Linked DNA regions of Homo sapiens: region 1 is linked to region 2. The links come from fine-mapping of genetic effects on gene expression. A gene starts in region 2. The other region holds a variant in brackets. All regions are shown on one strand. Distances are between the middles of the regions. Region 1 overlaps PAMR1 (peptidase domain containing associated with muscle regeneration 1). Region 2 holds the start of PAMR1 (peptidase domain containing associated with muscle regeneration 1).

Region 1 (12,229 bases), 80 kb before region 2:
GGAAGCCCAGTAGTCTTTCTGAATAGTGCAGGGGCCCGTCTACAGCATGTGTCTTTGGGAAGAACAGGTTGATCCCACTTAGTGGAGAGTCCAGCCCAGGGAAATCACACAGATCAGGAAAGAGGGCAGAATTTGAATTTCACTGCCACCGTTTCCAAGGAAATGCCTTGCCCCTGAAAGGAAAAAGACAAAAATGGAAGGAGACAGCCTGAGGAGGGGTGAAAGACTGATGGATATTCTGACTTATGAATATTCCAGGGAACTTAGCTGTAGTCAATTTCAGTCACCGGAATTCACTGTTACTATTTCTAACAATAGGTGAGAAATCACTGTCCGATGAATTATGCGTGCAAGGTACTTTGCTACAGCCTTTACATAAGACTCAAAGTATAGTGCATACGGGAGCAGACCAGGAAGCCAGATACTGAATTTACATCCTGGCTTTGCCACTCTAGCAATGTGATGTTGGACAAGTTACTTAACTTCTCTGAGCTTCAGTTTACCCCTCTGTAATATAAATGGTAATAAAATCTGTAATAAAATGGTGATAACAAAAATACCTACCTCAGAGGTTATAGTGAGGATTAAATGAACTAATGCATGAAAATACTCAGAAGAGCAACCGACACAGAGCAAACATGCAATAAATGTTAGCTATTAGGGTTGCATATAATCCTTGAAACAATCCCCAGAGACAGATTGCTATGATTATAACTACTTTTCAAAAGAAAAAACTAAGGCTCAGCAGGTTTAGGAACTTGCCCAAGAATACCCAGCACTAAAGACAGAGGCAGACTCAGGTCTTGAACCTTTGTTTGTCAATCCAATTCATTCATTCGATAAATACTTACTGAGTGCCTACTATGTGGCAGGTACTGTTTTAGGTACTAGAACTTTCAGCATGAACAAAACAGATAATGTTCCTGCACGTGTAACTTTCACATTTTGGGGAGGGTGAGGTTGACAGAAATTGAACAAATAAACCCTTAAAAATATGTAAGACAACAGGTGGAGAGAGATGCTAAGATAAAAACAGAAACAGACTACAGGCTAGAGAATTCTGGGTAAAGGGGTCCACTAGACAGTCAGGGTGAAGATAGGATTGCTATCTTTAAAAGGATATTTAGGGAAGATCTCTCTCTGTTAGGCAAAAACTGAGCAGAGAACTGAAGGAAGTGAGGCAATAAGCCTGAGATCTTGTGGAAGCAGGCTCCAGACAGAAGGAGCCACAGTGTAGTTTCCAAAGCAGAACTGTGCTTGGAGTGATAGAGGAAAATCAAGGAGGCCCGTGTAGCTGAGTGGAGAGAGTGAGGAAGAGAATGTAGAAGAAATGAGTAGAAAGGGGCTACTCCCTCCCCACCAGGTGGACCCCACCTTTGTCTTCCCAGGAGGAAGGTTGAGCATACCAGAGGGGCTCACATCCTTCTGCATGGCTGGTCATTTGTCTCTAGTTCTTGGGCTCCCCCAGCCTGCCTCATCTCACTGGTTACCTCCAAGCATATCTTCCTAAATTATAGCTGACTGTGTTTAACAGAAATGTCATCTTCCTAGAAGCTACCATAACAAGTACATAGTAATTTCAGGAAGACTCAAGGATTCAAGTCCATTTTCTCAAAGATCATCTGAAAGTCTTGCTTTCCACCGGTCATCTACTTTCCCACGATCCAGTGAAATTTGTACATCTTCCAACAGTTGCTACCTCTTGGCTAAAGGCAGCTGGCTAATAAGCCTCCATCTAACAAGCCCTATTATTTCATGACCAGTTAGCACTAAATGTCCCTAAGAAACCTCAAACTGACTATCTTTGGCCAAACACAAGTGGGGAAGGGGAATGGAAGGGGAAATACTCATTAGCCTTCAGGGCAGAGTGCAGGTGTTTTGACCTCACCTTGACTGAACCTGCATCGGAAGAACTCTCCTTCTCACCAGGTCTGAAATCTTTGGTTCTCGGCAGGCTAGAAATAAAAAAGACAATGCTGCATGATCCTTTTCCATATTCACTGTTCATATCATTCAGTTCAGATTCATACCTGACCCCCACTTCTGGACACCAGGTGCCCATTCCCCAGGCTCTCAGAGGCAAGACATGTCAGCCAAGCTTGAACATCTCACTTTACAAAAGAGCTTGGTGCATTTCATCTTGATTGACAGCACCCTCTGAAGAATCCAAGAAGAGCAGATGCCTCTGAAAGGCTGCCCCACCTGAGTGATTTGGGACAATGGCATCATAGATTAGGATCATCTGTTCATGTGAATGTAATTAGCAAACTTGATCAAAATGGAATAAAAGTCAAAGTGAAGGTTCTAAAACATAGCCCACATGGGGAATTAGAAGGTTCTCTTTTGACACCAGACAGCAGTGTCAACCATAGATAAGTCTTGGAAAACTGATTCCTCCATGTTCTTTCTCTGCTGTTAAGGCCCCTAACAATCACTTGAGGGCAATTCAAAGCCCAGTTTAATTTTGTTGAAGTCTCTCTTTCTTCAAGAATGAAAAGGAATCCTTCCCATCTCACTTTCCCAATCAGGCAGCCAACATTCATCTAATTAGCAACTTAGAGAACTTTGGTTGTATTAATTTGTAAGAGAAGACTGGACAAAAATCTCCAAGGACATATGTGACACCGTTCCCATACTTAATGAAATAAAAATCAGAATTTGTGCTGGTGGGGATGAAGGTCGCTTCTGGCTAAAGTCTAAAGTGATTTATTCCTTTCACAAACCATTCCCTTTCATTCCTTTTCCCATGATTCAGGTTGTTGACAAACACCCAGAAGGCAAAGTGGAGGATTAAGACAATTATCCGGATAATCTAGGACAAGGACATGTTTTCTTCCCAGTAAACAGCCAGATCATTGTGGCCTGCCCCCAAATAGAGAGGATGTTAACCTGAAGCAACTAGTGAATCAATTCAGTGAGAAACTATGCATCCCCACTGCCAATGGGGAAGGTTCAAACTTCTCTATACAATATTCCACTTTTCTGTCCAACCTACATATTTAAGTTTACCCCTTGATTCCCAGATTGCCTCACTTTGAGTTTACCATGATGACTTCACTTCTGCCTACACCTCTTTTCTTTTCTGCTGTCTTCCATTTGGAATACCATCCCGACTCCTCTTCACATCTACAAATCCTCTCCAGCTTTCCAGACTGGCTCCAGTCCTACTGGATTCATGCAATTGTCCCTATTTCAGGAATGCTGATCTCTCCTTTTGCTGAACTTACACCACTCATCTCTTCCTATAACTATCCCTTGAATGTACAAGGGTTTACTCTCTGTCTTTGTTTTTAAACATCTTAACATCTTCAATCCTCCCCCTCCATAGGCTGGCAGGGATGATGTGTCTATTTTGTTCTTTTATTTCTCACATCAACTTAATATTGCATAGAAAGTAGATAAGTGGAGCTATGTACATGCTTATACATTGCCTCAATTCTATACTTGGATTTGCATATATTAAACTCAGCCCTGTCATCTTTCCTAAACTGCTCTGATAACTACATTCCTCTTCTTGATCACCTCAAGGTGTTGTGATTAGGGAAAGCAGGTCCTCTTGAGGTCAAAAAAAAAAAGAAGCAAATATTTTTAGGATGGTTTCCAACCTCAGAGATATATGGTTTCAGAAAGGACTTAAAAGAGAAAGGCATTTTTCCAGGGGCTTAAAAACATGCAAAGGAGCTACCAAAAAGTCTAGCAACTTCATCAATGTCCGTAGACTTCAGAAACAATTGTAAGTTACCTTTTATGCAGATGGGCTGTTTCCCTGACCACTCTCCATTCTGCTGGCAAGTTCTTTTCTCATTGCCACTAAGAACATAGGAGTTGTTACAAAAGAAAGACACCACGGTGCCAATTTTAGCATGGCGTCCGTTGATAAGCCCAGGGCCCCCTGTTATTTTCTGGTACCCATTGACTGGGCCCCCAGGGTCTGAGCAGTTTCTTTCTTCAAGGACTAAAAGAAAGTAAAAGAAAAGGAGAATTGTTAAAAGTCTGAGTTATTCCATTTTAGAATAGAATCTTTCATGTTTCATTGAACTAAAAATACAATGATATAGGATCTGGTGCTCAAAAGAATTACTAAAATAAATCTCATAATAGAAAATTCATGTACTAGACATGTATTTCCCCTGTTTTCATAATTTATTCTTAAATTGAAAAATCTCATTCTATATATAAATAAATTTGATGCCAAATCTGGCTCTTATATCATCTTGTCCATTTCTTTCTCAAACTGTTGGAACTAGGCAGCCCTGAGTAAAATAAATATCTCACCTAAATTTTATTATCGGTATACAAGGATTATTGTTTTTCAGTGTTGTTGTATTATCTCCTTCATTCTTTAAAGCTTGGGCAATTAAAAACTATTCCATTTCCTATTTGTATTGTACCCAGAAAGTAGAGCTGCTTAGAAATAAGAGTACATACATAAAGTGAATTTAGATTTTATATTTAATCTCTAGGAAAATAAGTGTATTGAAAGTTATAGTTAAAAATACTACAGAACAATATAATTGTAGAGATACAATAAATTTCCCTTGATCTCCAAATATAACTTTCCATCTAAGTATTTGATATTCATTACAGAGGTATTTCTATTCTTTGAGTCCTGTTGAATGGCTATTAAAGTAGAAATGGCATCAGCAGCTATTCTGAGCACTAAACAGGATTTTTAGATATATTCTGGAAATATTCTATCAGATAGGTAACATATTTCTCTCAAATAGATTATGACACTACTGAATATGACTTGCCTAAGGAAGCCGAGCTCCCATAGAATTCAAACTTCTACTACTTGATTTGGGTACCAATCACTCTATCAACCTATCAGCCTCCCTACTTTCTTTTTTCTTTTTTTTTCTTTTTCTTTTTTTATTTATTTATTTATTTTGAGACATGGTCTCACTCCGTCACCCAGGCTGGAGTACAGTGGCGCAATCTTGGCTCACTGCAAACTCCATCCCCTGGGCTCAAGTGATCCTCCCACCTTAGGCTACTGAGTAGCTGGGACCACAGGCACACACCAGCTAATTTTTGTATTTTTAGTAGAGATGGGGTTTCACCATGTTGCCCAGGTTGGTCTTGAACTCCTAAGCTCAAGCTGTCCTCCCACCTTGGCCTCCCAAAGTGCTGGAATCACAGGTGTAAGCCACCATAACTGACCTTAGTTTCTTTTTTTTAATATAAATAATTTCAACTTTTATTTTAGATTCAGGGTGTACATGTGCAGAATTATTACCTGAGTATATTGCATTATGCTGAGCTTTGGGGTACAATTGATCCTGTCACACAGGCATTGATTATAATATCCAGTAGTTCTCAACCCTTGCCACCTTTTCTGTCTCCTCTTCTAGTAGACTCCCTGGTTTCCTTAAAATCATTTATTCTAAGACACAGACAGGCTCATCCCTATAAAACAGTCTCTGTGCAATGCAACTGTGCTTTTTTTTTTTCCTTCCTTCTTTTTATTTTTATTTTATTAAG[C/T]TCCGGATACAGGTGCAGGATGTTCAGGTTTCTTACATAGGTAAACGTGTGCCATGGTGGTTTGCTGCACCTGTCAATCCATCACCTAGGTATTAAGCCCCACATGCATTAGCTGTTTATCCTGATGCTCTCCCTCCCCTCACAACCCCCTGATAGGCCCCAGTGTGTGTTATTCCCCTCCCTGTGTCCATGTGTTCTCATCATTCAGCTCCCACTTATGAGTGAGAACATCCAGTGTTTCGTTTTCTGTTCCTGCATTAATCTGCTGAGGATAATGGCTTCTAGCTTCATCCATGTCCCTGCAATGGATATGATTTTGTTCCTTTTTATGGCTGCATAGTATTCCATGGTGTATCATGTACCACATTTTCTTTATCCAGTCTATCATTGATGGTCATTTGGGTTAATTCCATGTCTTTGCTATTGTGACCAGTGATGCAATGAACATACATGTGCATGTATCTTTATAATAGATTTATATTCCTTTGGGTATATACCCAGTAATGGGATTGCTGGGTCAAATGGTATTTCTGGTGCTAGATCTTTGAGGAATCACCAAATTAGTTCAATCACCTTGAAATAATTTACATTCCACCAGCAGTGTAAAAGTGTTCCTATTTCTCCACAGCCTTGGCAGCATCTGTTGTTTCTTGACTTTTAAATACTCGCCATTGCGACTGGCATGAGATAGTATCTCGTTGTGGTTATTTACATTTCTCTAATGATCAGTGATGTTGAGCTTTTTTCAAATGTTTGTTGGCTGCATAAATGTCTTTAAAATTCATAAGGAAGCAAAAAGACCCCATATAGCCAAGACAATCCTAAGCAAAAAGAACAAAGCTGGAGGCATCATGCTAACTGACTTCAAATTATACTATGAGGTTATAGTAACCAAAACAGCATGGTACTGGTACAAAACCAGTACCTTTGAGAAGTGTCTGTTCATGTCCTTGGCCCCCTTTTTAATGGGATTTTTTTTTCTTGTAAAGTTGTTTAATTTCCTTGTAGACTCTGGATATTAGACCTTTGTCAGTTGGATAGGTTCCAAAACTTTTCTCCCATTCTGTAGGTTGTATGTTCACTCTGATGATAGTTTATTTTGCTGTGCAGAAGCTCTGTAGTTTAATTAGATCCAGTTCGTCAATTTTTGTTTTTGTTTCAATTGCTTTTGACGTTTTTGTCATGAAATCTTTGCCTGTGCCTATGTTGTATGGTATTGCCTAGATTTTCTTCTAGGCTTTTTATAGTTTTGGATTTTACATTTCAATCATTTTTCCATCTTGAGTTAATTTTTGTATAAAGTGTAAGGAATGGGTCCAGGTTCAATTTTCTGCATATGCCTAGCCAGTTCTCCCAGTACCATGTATTAAACAGGGTATCCTTTCCTCATTGCTTGTTTTTGTCAGGTTTGTCGAAGATCAGATGGTTGTAGATGTGTGGTCTTATTTCTGAGGTCTCTGTTCTGTTCCATTGGTCTATGTGTCTGTTTTTATACCAGTACCATGCTGTTTTGGTTACTGTAGCCTTGTATAGTTTGAAGTTGGTTAGTGTGATGCCTTCAGCTTCATTCTTTTTGCTTAGGATTGTCTTGACTATATGGGCTGTTTTGTGTTTCCTTGTGAATTTTAAAATAGTTTTTTCTAATTCTGTGAAGAATGTCAATGCTAGTTTGATGGGAATATCATTGAATCTATAAATTACTTTGGGCAGTATGGCCATTTTCACAATATTGATTTTTCCTATCCATGAGCGTGGAATGTTTTTCCATTTGTTTGTGTCCTCTCTGATTTCCTTGAGCAGTGGTTTGTAGTTCTCCTTGAAGAGATCTTTCACTTCCCTTGTTAGCTGTATTCCTAGGCATTTTATTCTCTTTGTGGCAATTGTGAATGGGAGTTCATTCATGATTTGACTCTCTGCCTGTCTGTTGTTGATGTATAGGAATGCTTATGATTTTTGTATATTGATTTTGTGTCCTGAGACTTTGCTGAAGTTGCTTATCAGCTTAAGAAGCTTTTGGTCTGAGACGATGGGGTTTTCTAGATATAGGATCATGCCATTCACAAACAAAGAAAATTTGACTTCCTCTCTTCCTGTCTGAATACACTTTATTTCTTTCTCTTGCCTGATTGCCCTGGCCCGAACTTCCAGTACTGTGTTGAATAGGAGTGATGAGAGAGGGCATCCTTTTCTTGTGCCAGTTTTCGATGGGAATGCTTCCAGCTTTTGTCCATTCAGTATGATATTGGCTGTGGGTTTGTCATAAATGGCTTTTATTTTGAGGTATGTTCCTGCTTTACCTAGTTTATTGAGAGTTTTTAACATGAAGGGATGTTGAATTTTATCAAAGGCTTTTCTGTGTCTATTTAATCATGTTTTTTCATCTTTAGTTCTGTTTATGTGATGAATTATGTTTATTGATTTGCAGATGTTGAACCAGCCTTGCATCCTGAGGATAAAGCCAACTTGATCGTGGTGGATAAGCTTTTTGATGTGCTGCTGGATTTGGTTTGCCAGTATTTTATTGAGGGTTTTTGCATTGATGTTTATCAGGGATATTGGCCTGAAGTTTTGTTTTTTTGTTGCATCTCTGACAGGTTTTGTTATCAGGATGATGCTGGCCTCATAAAATAAGTTAGAGAGAAGTCCCTCCTTTTCCATTGTTTTGAATAGTTTCAGAAGAAATGGTACCAGATCCTCTCTGTACTTCTGGTAAAATTCAGCCATAAATCCATCTGGTCCTGGGCTTCTTTTGATTGGTAGGCTATTAATTACTACCTCGATTTCAGAACTAGTTATTGGTCTATTCAGGGATTCAAATTCTTCCTGGTTCAGTCCTGGGAGGGTGTATGTGTCCAGGAATTTATCCATTTATCCTAGATTTTCTAGTTTATTTGCATAGAGGTGTTTATAGCATTCTCTGATAATTGTTTGCATTTTTGGGGTTAGTGGTGATATCCCCTTTATTATTTTATATTGTGTCTATTTGATTCTTTAATTAGTCTCTCTTTTCTTCTTTATTAATCTAGCTAGCTATGTATTTTATTAATTTTTATTCAAAAAACCAGCTCCTGGATTAGTTGATTTTTGGAAAGATTTTTTGTGTCTCTATCTCCTTCAGTTCTGCTGTGATCTTGGTTATTTCTTGTCTTCTGCTAGCTTTGGAGTTTGTTTGTTCTTAGTTCTCTAGTTATTTTAGTTGTGATGCTAGGATATCAATTTGAGATCTGTGTAGATTTTTGATGTGGGCATTTAGTGCTATAAATTTTCCTCATAACATTGCTTTAGCTGCATCCCAGTGATTCCGGTATGTTGTCTGTTTGTTCTCATTGGTTTCAAAGAACTTCTTGATTTCTGCCTTAATTTCATTATTTACCCAGGAGTCGTTCAGGAGCAGGTTGTTCAATTTCCATATAATTGTGTGGTTGAGTGAGTTTCTTAATCTTGCATTCTAATTTAATTGTGCTGTGGTCTGGGAGACAGTTTGTTATTATTTCAGTCCTTTTGCATTTGCTGAGAAGTGTTTTACTTCCAATTATATGATCAATTTCAGAGTAAGTGCTATGTGGCACCAAGAAGAATGTTTATTCTTTTGTTTTTGGGTGGAGAGTTCTGCAGATATCTATCAGGTCCACTTGGTCCAGAGCTGAGTTCAAGTCCTGAATATCTTTGTTAATTTTCTGTCTTGATGATCTAATATTGACAATGGGGTGTTAAAGTCTCCCACTGTTTTTGTATGGGAGTGTAAGTCTCTTTTTAGGTCTCTAAGAACCTGTTTTATGAATCTGAGTGTTCCTGTATTGGGTGCATATATGTTTAGGATAGTAAGCTCTTCTTGCTTAATTGAACCCTTTATGATTATATAATGCCCTTCTTTATCTTTTTTGATATTGTTGGTTTAAAGTCTGTTTTGTCAGAAACTAGCATTGCAGCCCCTGCTTTTTTCTGCTTTCCTATTTGCTTGGTAATTTTTCCTCCATCCCTTTTTTTTTTTTTTTTTTGAGATGGAGTCTCGCTCTGTTACCCAGGCTGCAGTGCAGTGGTGCGATCTCGGCTCACTGCAAGCTCTGCCTCCCAGGTTCATGCCATTCTCCTGTCTCAGCCTCCCGAGTAGCTGGGACTACAGCCACCTGCTACCACGCCCGGCTAATTTTTTTCTATTTTTTAGTGGAGACAGGGTTTCGCCATGTTAGCCAGGATGGCTCGATCTCCTGACCTCATGATCTGTCCGCCTCGGCCTCCCAAAGTCCTGGGGTTACAGGCGTGAGCCATTGCGCCTGGCCTTCCTCCATCCTTTTATTTTGAGCCTTTCTGGGTCTTTGCATGTGAGATGGGTCTCTTGAACACAGCACACCAATGGGTCTTCACTCTTTATCCAGCTTGCCATTCTGTGTATTTTAATTGGGGCATTTAGCCTATTTACATTTAAGGTTAATATCGTTATGTGTAAATTTGATCCTGTCATCGTGATGCTCGCTGGTTATTTTGCAGACTTGTTAATGTAGTTGTTTCATAGTGCCTTGGTCTGTCTACTTCAGTGTGTTTTTGTAGTGGCTGGTGACAGTTTTTCCTTTCACTATTCAGTGCTTCCTTCAGGAGCTCTTGCAAGGCAGGCCTTGTGGTGACAAATTCCCTCAGCATTTGCTTGTCTGAAAGGGATTTTATTTCTCCTTCACTTATGAAGCTTAGTTTGCCTGGATATGAAATTCTGGGTTGGAAATTCTTTTCTTTAAGAATGTTGAATATTGGCCCCTAATCTCTTCTGGCTTGTAGGTTTCTCCTGAGATATCGACTGTTAGTTTGATGGCATTCCCTTTGTAGGTGACCTTGCCTTTCTCTCTGGCTGCCCTTAACATTTTTTCCTTCATTTCAACCTTGGAAAATCTGAGGATTATGTGTCTTGGAGTTGACATTCTTATGGAATATCTTGCTGGGGTTCTCTGGATTTCCTGAATTTGAATGTTAGCTTGTCTTTCTAGGTTGGGGAAGTTCTCCTAGATGACATCCTGAAGTATGTTTTCTAGCATGGCTCCATTCTCCCTGTCTCTTTCAGGTACCCCAATCAGGTTTGGTCTTTTTACATAATCCCATAGTTCTCAGAGGTTTGGTTCATTCCTTTTCATTTTTTTTTTCTCTAATCTTGTCTGCCTGTCTTATTTCAGCAGGATAGTTTTAATGTTCTGAGATTCTCTCCTCCATTTTGTCTATTCAGCTATTGATACTTGTGGTTGCATTGTGAAGTTCTTATGCTGTGTTTTTCAGCTCCATCAGGTCATTTATGTTCCTCTCTAGACTGATTATTCTGGTTAACAGCTCCTGTAGTGTTTTATCATGATTCTTAGCTTCTTTGCATTGGGTTAGAACTTACTCCTTTAGCTCATCAAAGTTCATTATTACTTACCTTTTGAAGCCTACTTCTGTCAATTAATCCATCTCAGCCTCAGCCCAGTTCTGTGCCATTGCTGGAGAGGTGTTGCAATCATTTGGAAGAGAAGAGACGCTCTGGCTTTTTAAATTTTCAGCACTTTTATGTTGATTTTTTCTCATCTTCATGGGTTTATCTACCTTCAATCTTTGAGGCTGCTGACCTTTGGATGAGATTTTTGTGGGGTCTTTTTTGTTGATGTTGTTGTTGCTTTCTGTTTTTCTTTTAACAGCCAGGCCCCTCTTCTGCAGGGCTGCTGCCGTTTGCTGGAGGTCCACTCCAGACTCTATTCACCTGGGTCCCTCCCACACCTGGAGATATCACCAGTGGAGGCTGCAGCAAAGCAAAGATGGCTGCCTGCTCCTTCCTCCAGGAGCTCCATCCCACAGGGGCACCAAACTGATGCCAGCTGGAACTCTCCTGTATGAGGTGTCTGGCCACCCTTGTTGGGAGGTTCCACCCAGTCAGGAGGCACGATCAGGGACCTGCTTAATGAAGCAATCTGGCTGCCCCTTGGCAGAGCAGGTGCACTGCACTGGGGGAAATCCCACTCGTCTGGACTACCAGCCACCTCAGAGCCAGCAAGCAGGAAAGACTAAGTGTGTTGAACAGGAGATCATGACTGCCTCCCCACAGAGGATCTGTCCCACTGGCCACCTCAGAGCCAGCAAGCAGGAAAAACTAAGTGTGTTGAACAGGAGATCATGACCGCCTCCCCACAGAGGCTCTGTCCCAGGAAGACTGGGGTTCTGTCCGTAAACCCCTGGCTGGAGTTGCCGGAATTCCTGAAGGGAGGTGCCACCCAGTGAGGAGGGATGGATCCAGGTCCCACCTAAAGAAGCAGTCTGGCCACAATCTGCCACAGCTACTGTGCTGCACTGTGAGGAATTCTTCTCTGTCCAAACCGTCCGATCTTTCTGGACCAGCAGGGGAAAATGGCCAACTGAAACCGCAGTGATGGCTGCCTCCCCTCCCCCTGGGAACTTGGTCATCTTAGGCAGTCTCCAGCCTGCTGCCACTGGCCACAACCCAAGCAGCCTCCGAGAGACTGCACAGCTCTGTGCTTGAGACCAAAGGCCCTGGTGGCATGGGCTCACAAGGGGATCTCCTCATCTGTGGGTTGCACAGATCCATGGCAAAATTGTGGTTTCCCTGGCAGGGTAGCACATCACTAACTGCCTCCTTTGGCTGGGGTGGGAGTTTGCCTTACTCCATGCAGCTCCCGGCTGGGCCATCACTCCACTCTGCTTTTCCTTGCTTTCCATGGGTCATGACAACCACCTAGTCAGTCTCAATGAGAGAACCTAGATACCTCAGCTGAAA
Region 2 (12,229 bases):
TTTCTTTACTGCAGGACTCTGCAGAGTCTATAATCTCCAAATCCCCCAGACTTATTTCATCATAACATCCTGGATTCTGTTTACTTTTGCTGAATATCTCCCAGGATTAGCATTTCCTGAAACCCATTTTGGGAAATGCCAAGCTGAACCATCAGTTCTCTCAGTAGATTGCAAGTGCCTTCAGAAAAAGGACTTTGTCCTGTTCATCTTGATATTGCCAACACCTATAACCATGCCTGGCACCCGATAGGGGCTTGATAAGGATTACTAAATAAATACATGAATATGGACATGGGAGCATGTGTGATTCCAAGTGTAAAGGCTATTTGTGACAAAGACCGATGTTAGAATCTTCTCTTGCTGTGACTTTTCAGAGTCTCTATTGTACAGAAAGAGGAATCCATTGGGTCCATTAGTGAATATTTTTGTTGACTGCAATTTGTATCTCATTTCCACGAGGGCTTGAGATACTTACCCATTCTGTTCTACCAGTGCATTGGCCACAGGACCAGGCTTGCCCAAAAGGGAGGCTGAACACCATTGAGAAGCAGGCAGTTAACCCCCTGGGAGGCAAAAAGCCAGACCAAAAAGTGTTGTAATGAGGATTCCTTACCACCAGCCATGTCCTCACTTCTGCTTGTATCCAAGTAAGCAAAGGTAGGTTGAAAATTATAGGAGTAGATGATACCAGGTAGAAGCTAAGCCCAGGCAACTTGTCTTAGGACATTTCAGGTGTTCTCCATCATTCTCGTTAACTTCTAAGGAGGGATCCCATGGTGGATGCAAAAGTCTAAAGGGAGGCTCATGTTTCTTAGACTTTCAAATTCCCTTCTTACCCTTTCCTCTTTAATGGTGAGATATTCTTCCACGTCTTATGCCTTACGGGTGAGAGATCAGAGTTTTCCAAGCTGTATTCCACGGAGCACTAATTCCACTGGATGGTATAAAGGAAAAGACAAAAAGAGGCTCTGTGGTCAAACAACTTGAGGTGATCAGAGAATTAACTGATTACTTCAAGTTGTTTGACCACAGAGCCTCTTTTTGTCTTTTTTTCCCTTATACCATCCAGTGGAATTATAAAGTAAATAGAAGTGCAACTGGATTTGAAAAACATTGATGCTTTAGTTTCTTGGAGTCATCCAACAATTCATTTGATTTCAAGCAAAACAACCCAACATCCCCTCTCCATCCAGTGGTTTTTCATTAAGCTAGCTGGAATTTTTTTAACCCACCATCAATTCAGTGCATGAGGACAGTTGTTGTGTCAGTGTGTGAGGACAATTGTGTCTCACCCGAGCTAAAGTTAGCTAAATGTGTTCCTCACTCTGTTCTGGCAGCAACAGCCTGGTTTTCCAAACATCAAGTCAACTGACCAGACTTCTACTTACAGAGATGCTTGCTGCCAAACCACTAACTCAACCCTCTGAGACAGCCAGAACCTCAGAGAGGGCAATGATAAAGATGCCCAGACTGCAGAAATAAAGGCATTTATCCAACACCAGAGAGAGAAGAGTGAGAGAAATAGTAGTCTTCATAGCTGCTCAGCCAAGGGGGCCACTTCTTTAAATAGCTGACATAAGATCCAGGACACTGGTGTCTGATAGACAGTAGATCCTCATTCAAGGTTGAGATGAATTGGTTAAAACCCATCTTAGGATTAGAGGAAAGGGATTGAGTCTCCATCCCCTGCAATATTCATCAACTATGTTTTGCCAAAAAAGAAGGGGGAAAAATGCTCCCGCTTATTCACTCCAGGTCTGCTCCTCCCATCCCATGGCTTAAGAGTTTACACAGAACACATCCATAAAGGAGCAGACATACACAATGTCAGGGCCACACTGGAATAAATGGTCTCATTAGCAATTCTGTTCCTCTGCAAACAGACATGTGATTTGGATGATAAAAATTTACCATGGGACAAAGAAATTCTCACCTCTCATGTCTACTGGGAGCAAGGTACATGACACCATGGACAGCTGTCCCAGAAACTGGTTGGACTTTTGGTCTGCCTGGCACCCCTGTTTCCTCTAGGGAATGGCTCCTCTTGGGTTCCATGTGGTGCTACTGGGGCTGCTGATGCCTCTGTCTTTTTCCTGCATCCACTCCACCTCCACAGAGGTGAGAACATGACTTGACACAGGCCAATCTGGGCACTTGGGATGTTCCAGGGATAATCAGACACCCTTACTAACACCATGATTTTTTATCATTTCGCCAAAATACAGCCAGCAGATCTGCCACCGTTGGACCTACTGCTTACTGTGGTGGTGGTGTGTCACATTTCAGGGCATGCCTTATGGAGTCAGACTGGATTCAAAAACATGGATATCCAGCTATATGACCTGGGCAGGTACTGAAACCCTTTGCCTAAGCTCTTTTGTGTATGAAGTGGGGGCAAACAACAATAGTACTTACCTCCTAGGTTTGTGGTGAGGATTAAGTAAATATATATAAAGCATATACGGGAGTGCCTAGTGTTTACCACAAACTCAATAAATTATTTGGATAGCCAAACTTGGGATTCATTTCCTTAGGTATGCTAGAATGGAAGCCTCTTCAAAGGTGTTTCCACCATTGATGATTGTATCATCAAGGGTAAAGATGCCTTGATGTGCAACCCCTACTTACTCCACTCTCAACCCACGTGGGCCCTGAGTCTGTCTCATAGACAACTGCAACCAAGTAAAAGGGGTAGAGTTGAGTAGGAGGTAGCAGTCACACTGATTCAGAGATTAATATCTCCAGCCAACTCCAATTCTCTGCCTTCCTTGAGCAGTTCTGTTTACAGGTATGAGATCTGGTGTGTCCTGAATTTTTTACTTCTTTCTCTTCATTTTAATCTAAAGCTCTCGCCCAGGTGTTGAGATGACTGACAAACAGAATTCCTTAAACATAGACCAGGCTTGGAATCTAATAGAGTTTCTGCCACTGATCTGGTGCTTTCAGTTTTCCAGCTGGCCTCTGGGTTCTCTGCCCTGGAATTTAGGAACTGGAAAATGTAAACATTGCATTTCCCTCCCCTTTAAAATAAAAGAGGAGGGAGGCTGGGCTCTTGTGACTTTCAAATATCCACAAAGTGAGGATGACAGCTCCTCCCCAATGAGGGGGGAATGGGGCACAATATTCCCTCATTTATCATGGAAATGGCACTTTTCCCCATTTGCTTACACCCCAAATCAACTGCAGCTTCTAGAGCTGGTCTCAGGGGAGGCAGGTAGAGAAGTTTTCTTTTGCATCAGGATTGGCCACCCCAGTGGGGCAGATGGAAATAATTTTCAGATCTAAGACCTGTCATTAGGTCCCAGGCACCATTATGTTGGCCATTTCTGTCTAGCCAGTATAACCCAGATGTGGATAAGATTAAGTCAAATCCATTGTCCATGCCAATGGCATTCTAAAGCCCTCCCCAAGACTTCTGCATATTCCTGAGGGACTTACGCGCTCTAGGTCACCTCTGCTTCTGGGCTCCCATGTCTAAGGTGCTTTGTTCACAGGTTATTGACCCAGATATAACACCCAGCCCTGTCTTCAGTTTCCACTGAAAGCTTATGCTCAAGGGCATTCATGAAAGTAAAACATTTTACTAAAGAGTTGGAGGTCACAGAGAGAGGTAAGATTATGCTCCATGAAATATACAGATTAAAATATGTTAGACACTGATAAAAGTCTGATGTACCAGATGCTCTGAAAAATCCTGTTGGCCAATTAGTCCTCAGCAGCTGAACTCCCTTGTTTCCCTCCATTCACCATCCAGCCTTCCACCTTCTCCCTCTCATTCCCCCTTCCTGTCCCATCCCTCTCAGAAATGGAGGTCAAAACTTCAAATGCTAGTAAGGATTAGCAGGTATTAAACATATGGGTTGAGAGGTGGAGTGTCAGACCCTAGAGAGGATCCAGCCTACCTCAAGACATTCAGGTTCAAAACACTCTGAAGCACTTGTGTCCTACTAAATAAATTCTGCAGGCCTTTTGGCTCCAAAGGCTGCCAGTTTCTGGTCTATCAGCACAGTCTCCCTCTTTGCCACAACCAGCCAAGAAGCAGCAACAATGCCAGTAAAACAGGAGCTAGCAAGGGCTCTCTTTCCCCTGCTTCATGTGCATCCTGAAACCCTAACAAAGTTAGATGTCCATCAGCATAATCAGTCCATGTGCTGGATGTGTGAATATATGTCCTCCAGGTAACGGAGGAACTTGGGTTCAGAAACTAGACAGCCTGAGCTCACCCTGGGCTCCACTACTCTGCCAGTGTAGTTGTTTATTTATTTATTGTGGAAAATATATACATAACAAAAAATTACCTTTCAAATCGTTTTTTGTTTGGTTTTTTTTTGTTTTGTTTTGTTTTGGAGACAGAGTCTCACTCTGTCGCCCAAGCTGGAGTGCAGTGGCGCGATCTTGGCTCCCTGCAAGCTCCACCTCCCAGGTTCACACCATTCTCCTGCCTCAGCCTCCCGAGTAGCTGGGACTACAGGCGCCTGCCACCACGCCCAGCTAATTTTTTGTATTTTTAGTAGAGACAGGGTTTCACTGTGTTAGCCAGGATGGCCTCGATCTCCTGACCTCGTGATCTGCCCGCCCTGGCCTCCCAAAGTGCTGGGATTATAGGCATGAGCCACTGCGCCTGCCTCAAATCGTTTTTAAGTGCATGGTTCAGTGGCATAAGTACATTCATACTATTGTGCAACCATCACCACCATCTATCTCCAGAACTTTTTGCTATTCCACATTGAAACTCTGTACCCATCAAATAATAACTCCCATTCCATCTTCTCCTGGGCCCTGGCAATTACCACCCTACTTTCTGTCTACATGAATTTGACTATTCTAAGTACCTCATATAAGTGGCATCACAGAACATTTGTCTTTTTGTGTCTGGCTTCTTTCACTTAGCATAAGGTCTTAAGGTTCATCTGTGTTATAGCACGTATCAGAATATCCTTTATTTTTAAGGCTGAATAATATTCCGTCGTAGGTGTATACTGTATCTTGTTTATCAATGGACATTCGGGTTGTTTCCACCTTTTGGCTATTGGGAATAATGCTGCTATGAACATTGATGTAAACATATCTAATCAAGTCCCTGCTTTCAATTCTTTTGTGTATACACCCAGAAATTGAATTGCTAAATCAAATGGTAATTCTATGTTCAATTTTTGGGGGAACCATACTTGTATATCCTTAAACCTCTGTGTATCATAGAACCTCTCTGAACCTCATCTGTAAAACACGGATAATAACAGCAATGCCATTTCAGGGTGGTCTGAGAATTAATGCATATGAAGCCTTTGGCTCAAAGACTGGACACATTAATAAATGTTCACTAAATGTTTGCTTGATGTTTAATCTCTTCATCCTCTGAATTGAGGGACTCATACTAAAATAATTTCTAAAGTCACTCTCAGCTCCTAAACTCCATGATCCCATCATTAAATTATTTTCCTGTTGGGGATGCCAGGAGCTCTCAGATTGTATATTAGGGGAACACCCTCTTCATGATCCCCGCAAAAATCCACCCGTGCCAAGAAGGCCCAATTTTCCTAGCTTTCTCCTAGGAATTTGCCAACATATCCCAGTGTAATCTCACATCTCATTTTTCTTGCCACTCCTTCTCCCTTGCTTTCTTTCCATGTTTCCTTTCTCGGCTGGCTTTTCCTGCCCACTGAATATCTGCACTTCAAATTATCTTCCCTGGTTGCATTTATGTTCATTCCCCACAAGTTAATGTCTGTTGGAAGCAACACTTGTGAAGTTCTCCAGATTAAGTTTTCATTCCCAAGAGTCCCATATTTTAAATGAGGTTTTCCTCTTCGGCAGAATCACACTGGCAGAGCTACCGCAATTTGGTGAAGTCAGTGGAGTTGGGTTTCTCCCCTCATTCTGTTTATGTTGGGTTATCGCTTGGCCTCATGTTTGGATTCTCATCCTCCCAACATGTGTCACATGCCAGTGAGAAACAACACTCTCTGGTACCATCCCAGTGGATGTTTACAATTCAGCAAATACTCTTTTTAGAAAAGTTAATTAGAGGAAATACGCTTCCAAGCTTTTCTTGCCTGGGGCCAGATTCAGCATCCCAGCAGGGAGTGGACTTCCTTCACTCCTTGAGGAAATATTTTCCTTCTCCACGCTATTCCTCCGTCTTCCCTCGAAATGTGAGTAAAACATTCAACAACTAAAATATCCTTGCTAAACACATGAAGCTGCGCTCTGGTTCAGGCAGCAGTTTAGCTACCAACAAACTGCGTATCCTCTCTGAAGCTTTTTCACAGCCAAAGGTAAAAGAGGTTCTCGGGTCAGAAATAAATGGATTTTTCAGATTCTGGGCTAGGAAAAAGAGCCAGCTCAGGTTTTTTTATTTTCTTTTAAACTTTTATGGCTTTGAAGCGCCTCACCTGCCATGTAATAAAACAGGAAGCAGGGGAACGCTGATGTAACCCTGAGGAATCAAATCCACTGAGCCCTGGCACTCTGAGAAGAACCAGGTCCTCTGGAGCTGGTCCACCGACACCATGCAAAGGCGAAGATGAAGTAGGGAGGTGCCTTAATGCAAAGTCACCCACTTACCCCTAGGCAAGTGTTTAGGTTTATGGATTGTCAGCCCTTATGAAGGGCTCCTTCTTCCTTTATTATTGTCTTTGGGCTGCTCCAGACACCATGGAGGCAAAATTCAAATGAAACACTCACCATCTTTATTGTAAATCATTAAGGAAGATCCTACCTGGGCAGGCAGGCTCTAGGTAGATGGAAAGTATTGACCAAAATGAAGGGCAGGGGGGTTTGTGTATCTCAGCTTTTCGTTGATCATGAAGGGATGTGCCTATGGCTAAGTTTCCCTTCTACACAGGTTATTGCATTTAGTATCCTCCCCACCCGACCTGGCCTGTTTCATTCTCAGGCACTTGCCAGCTACTTGCAGCGGCAGAGCACCCAGCTCTCAGATAGAGTTCAGGTGACAGGTAACCAGCACAGAAGGGAAGCAGCGAAGGCTCGTACATAACCTGCCCCTATTCAGAGCTGCCCCGTTTGGTCATTTCTGTACATCTCGGCCTGCCCTCATCTCATGAGGTCTCACTTTACCCCCTGGGCCATAGAAGGACAGATGTTCCTATGACGTTCCCACTTCCCCGCCTGCCAGCAAGCAGGATCTGCCATGTCCTCGCTTCTGCCCTTAGCTGGATCTCCGTATCATGTCCCAGCCTCATTTGTCCCCAGAAGCCCATTTGACCTGGGGATTGTGGCTTAGAAAATGATATATGAAAACCAAAGAAGCCAGAGCTCTTTCAAAACAAACCCTATGCATCCCAGAAACAATCTGCACTTTTAACCTTGGCTTTTTCTTCTTTCTCACTCTCATCAGAAAGGAAGTGTGTCTATATATGCTGAGTGAGTCAATCTCCTGTGCTTGGATCTACTCCGAAGGGGTATGGCTGTAGGAGTTCGTGAAGCAAGATTCACCAGAAGAACACCAAGCAAGCCCTGCTCTTTATTCCTTTCTTTCTTTCCCTCTCTTCTTTCTTTCTTGCTCACCTCTGAGGGAGCCCTTTCCAAGAGAAACTTCGCTTTTGCAAGTCAGAGCGGGTAACTCAGAATTGATTCCCTAAGGCAATTTGGTACTTTTAAAATGATAAAAAGAGCAAATAAAATAGGAGCTGGTCCGCTTTCCTGAGACAGTACAGCCCCACGATTTGGGATGACAAAACCACGTCACAGTCTCAGGGAGGGCCACAGGAGCTCCAGCACCACCAGCCAAGTCCCTAAAATTATCACTGGAAAAGCACCACCCCCCCTCAACCCCTCACCCCAAACACACACAGCCCACCTCCTGAGACTCCCAGTCCTGCTCCCAGGCAGACCCCAGGAGGAAAATGCTCCCTCCTAGGGTGTCCTCCTAGGGTGTCCCGGACGCTACTCACAGTACCTCTTGGCAAGGACGAGATGAGAAGGAGCTGAAGAAAAGTGAGCCCCAACTGCGTCCAGCAACCCAGCTCCATCCTTGCCGCGGCTGGTGCCCGAGCGTCTACTGGGGAGGGAGAGGAGGGACCCAGGGAGGCCGGGGGCAGGCGGGTTTTACAGGGACCTCCCCGAGCCCCAGCTGAGCGGGAGCTCGGGTTTCAGCTCGCCAGGCTCTCCCATCCTCATCTGAGGGGAACCACCTTCAGCCAGAGCGACGTCAGCCCAAACCTCTCCTCTCTGCTGCCTTAACCCTTGCGGGGCCCCGGGAGGTGTGGCCACGCCTGGAGACCCGCGGACGGCGGCTGCAAAGGAAGCTGCGGGGGAGGGAGGCCAGCCTGGGTACAGGTGGGGTCCCAGTGTTGGGTGCTGGGAGGAGGGGCCATAGGACCCTGGGCGGGAGCAGAGGTACCCAGGGCTGCGGGGCGCTCAGGTGAGGCCGGGAGATCTTCCTACGGGAGGCTGAGACGGGAGCTGGCTTTGCCCTCTCTGACTGCACGCGGGGAGCCTGATTAAAAGCCTGGCCTGAGGAGAAGGAGGAGTTGGTGATGGGAGGAGAAAGGGAGCCTCCCTCCACTCCGCACGCAACACTCCTCGTTTATCTCCTTTCCTCTCCGTTTGCTCCAGGTGATCACAGGTTGGAAAGCTTATTATCTTTTGCAACTACAGGCTACTGGAAAAAGTTTTCCTCTTCCTATGATCCCCGTCATGGTGAATTCAGCGACATAAGCAGCTCCTGAGCTACTGGAAAAAGTTTTCCTCTTCCTGTGATCCCCACGATGGTGAATTCAGCAACATAAATAGCTCCTGCGCACACGCCAGGCAGGGATGGCGAAGAACACACAAGAACCCTCACTGCCTCCACCAAAAGGGCTCAGTTTAGGTACAAGATAGCAAGTGACATCTCGAAATGAGGAAGAAGGATGTTTCATAATAGGTGACTTTTTAAAATAAACTCCTCCGTGCCAGGTGTCATGTACCTTACATGTATTAACTCAATTATTCCTCACAATAAACCTAGCCTCTGTATTTTACAATTAGAGAAACGGAACCATTGAGGATTACAATAACTCATCCAAGGCCACACAGTTAGTGAGGGGCAGAGCCAGGGTTTGAACCCGGGCAGCTTAGGCCCACAGGCTATAGTCTTAGCCACTAGGCTATAGAGCTTCTTAGGATGCTACATATGCAGAATTGTATTTCACCATTTGATATGGCTTCGCTGTGTCCCCACCCAAACCTCATCTTGAATTGTGGTTCCCATAAACCCCACGTGTCATGGGAGGGACCAGGTGGAGATAATTGAATCATGGGGACAGTTACCCCCATAAAAGTTTTAATTTTGTTCTCTAGATGTTGGCGGGCCCTGGTGGTTTACAAGTAGGGTGTGCTGAGCTCAAAGCAAAGTCTCGGGAAGAGAAGTCACCCTGGACTATTGATGAAGGCCTGGAGTAAGGATTAAGAAATGGAAGTGGAAGGGAAAAGATAAGGGGAGAAACCTGAGGAAGGTAGAATCTGTAAAGCTCAGGACAGATCAGAAGGTCAGGAGCCCTGACACAGGTGCTCTACTAGAAAGAATTTCTGAACTCCAGCCCTGCTTCTGGGGGCCTATTGCAGTGAAGTGACTGGAAGCAAGAACTCAGCAGGCCTGTGTTCTAATTTTGTTGATTCACCACTTTCTGGCTGTGTGACCTTAAGCAAGTTAACTCTCTGAATCTCAGTCTTCTCATCTATAAAATGGAAATAATAATCAAACCTACTTTGTAGATCACTGGAAGAATTTAATAAGATTACGCATGTAAGGCCCATAGCACAGAGCCTACCACATATTAAGTGCACACTAAATATTAATCATTATCTCTATTATCTGACCTGAGACTGCCCCCAAGAACATCTCATGGTATGAGTCTTGTTCCTACACTCAACTTCCATATCGAGATGAAATCAGTTAAAATAAGCACCAAGAGTAGCCTTAAACAGGAGCAGAATACCAGAGGGCAGCATATACCTAAGAGGTAGAGGGCAGAGGTTCGAAGAAGGGAGGTTCACCTTGTTGCTGGCCAACCAGTCCTGGTCCTTTGGTGATGGGAGTGGGAAGAAGATGACTTAGTTCCCAAATAACTGTAGGCATAAGAGCCTCTCAGGAGTCTGTTTCAACTCCAGCTGACGGCACCTGAGCTTTACAGATTCTACCTTCCTCAGGTTTCTCCCCTTATCTTTTCCCTTCCACTTCCATTTCTTAATCTTTACTCCAGGCCTTCATCAATAGTCCAGGGTGACTTCTCTTCCCAAGACTTTGCTTCGAGCTCAGCACACCTTACTCCTAAACCACCAGGGCCCACCAACATCTAGAGAACAAAATGAAAACTTTTATGGGGGTAACTGTCCCCATGATTCAACTATCTCCACCTGGTCCTTCCCATGACACGTGGGGTTTCTTTTCATCTTCCCTCTCCCCACCTCCCAGCCCCCACCACACACACCTCTCTGAGTCAATACCAAGCAGCCTCATCCCTACATGAATTGCATCCCCCTGACAGAATGGGGCTCTAAGTGATGAACCTGAAGGATAGCAGTCTATACCACCCCCAAATATGCCCCTTTGGCATAAGGATTATTTTGAGCTGAAAGCAGTTAAGAAGAAGTAGATACAAGAATAGGTCTCTGTTCTCCCCCCATTTTCCTAAAAGCAGACTTGAATTTATAAAAGTATAGTGTCTCCACCTCCCCTCTCTACCAGGACGGACAGAAGTTAATCATTGGAGACAACCCTAGACCCTTATCAGCCCAGAGGAATCTACATACCAAAACTTACTAACTAGTCTTATCTCCCATTAGGACCCCCATTTATTTATCTTCCCATAATTTGCTACCCCTAGAAGCTCAAAGTCCTTTTTGTTTGTCTTGCCACTTCTCTGCAAATTTATTGTTCTTTTTAAAAATGCAATATGAACCCAAATTCTAACCATCTCTTTGAGTTACTCCTCACTAGGTATTTCAACATGTAAGCACCATGCACAAGTTAATAAAAAACTTTTGTTTGTTTTTCTCTTGTTAATCTGTTTTTTCTTTTTTTTGTCATTCTAATTTACAGGGCCACAGCCAAGGAATCTAAGATGGGTAGGGAAGAAAGATTATTTTTCCTTCCCAACAAACCTGTTTGGCTATTTGCTAAGGAAGTCCCTGGTACCAGGTCTTTACTTCTCTAGGTTCAGGGGTCTGGAAACAGAGGCCCTTCTTCTGTTTCTGGAATCCCCTTCAAGAGTTGATTTGTTAGTTTGTTGTCACTAATTTGGGTTTGTAAATTTCCTAGAGCTGAGGACCTGGAAAGAAACTCTCAAAAAGATGCTCTGCAAAGGTGGAGGATGTATTTTTCTGGAGAAGTCAAAGCAGTAATCAGATATTACCTTGTTGAACTGCACAATAATCCCAGGGCTGGAAGAGAAAGAGGAGAACTGTTATTATGACACAGAAAAGTCAGTAGTTTACTGAGGACATTCAGCCCTACACAAATTTCTGTTTTCCTACACAAGTTTACCTTTCTCTGTCCCCATTATGGTCAACTGCATTTTTCATATTGATAGAGTTTAGTATTGTTCTAAATCAAGGATTCTTAATCTGGAAGCTCCTGGTTGAGATGGGGTTTTTTGAGGGACTTTGAATCTTCCAAAATCATATGCAAATTTTTGCATGCAGGTTTTTGAATAAGAGGGAGCCATAGCCTTCTCATTTGCAAACTCCCAACTTTTTTAGAATCACTAATCTTCGTAAGTTAAAATTGAAAAATGGACCAAATATTTCTCAGATTTGGGGAAAGTGATTTTGTGAATATATACAATCATTGAGTCTAGGCTATAAACTGCACAGTGGACATTTGGAGGGCCCTCTCACCTCCTCCTCACCTTTAAAAAACTATTTCTGACTTAAGAGCACTTGCTCTGGACCATACTGACTAATGTTGAATGCAGATGGACCACTCGCTACCTGTGTACACTTGGGCATGTTATTTCACATATGATGGCCTTGGTTTCCTCATCTGTTAAGTCTGAAGAATAGTACCTGTTGCCATTAGGGCTAGAGTAAAGAGCTCAAAACAGTGCCTAAAATATACTAAGATATCAGTAAATGTTAACTGTTTCTGTGATGCTTATCTCCCCCTCTGCCCTCACCTCCTACCACTGCTTGCTTCGGGGAGAATAAATCACAAGAAAGGCTGTGTATGAAAAAGACAAAGTGGCATGCTGGGAGATAGGGCATGATACCTGGAATTAAGAATTAT

The links. PIP is the estimated chance that this variant, and not a neighbour inherited with it, causes the effect. A credible set is the group of variants that fine-mapping cannot tell apart.
Region 1: its variant is the best candidate, but not a certain one, in a credible set for the expression of PAMR1 in fibroblasts (GTEx, PIP 0.84).

Annotation. Positions count from the first base shown.
Region 1 is chr11:35,437,739-35,449,967 of GRCh38, forward strand. PAMR1 (peptidase domain containing associated with muscle regeneration 1) reads right to left here. Exons shown (of 11, transcript NM_001001991.3): 7 at 3,743-3,955; 8 at 1,889-1,955. Among named protein-coding and RNA genes, the nearest start is that of SLC1A2, 24 kb to the left of the region's middle. The variant C/T (reference allele first, on the strand shown) is at 5,485.
Region 2 is chr11:35,517,595-35,529,823 of GRCh38, forward strand. PAMR1 (peptidase domain containing associated with muscle regeneration 1) reads right to left here and starts at 8,022. Exons shown (of 11, transcript NM_001001991.3): 1 at 7,919-8,022. The coding sequence starts at 7,991.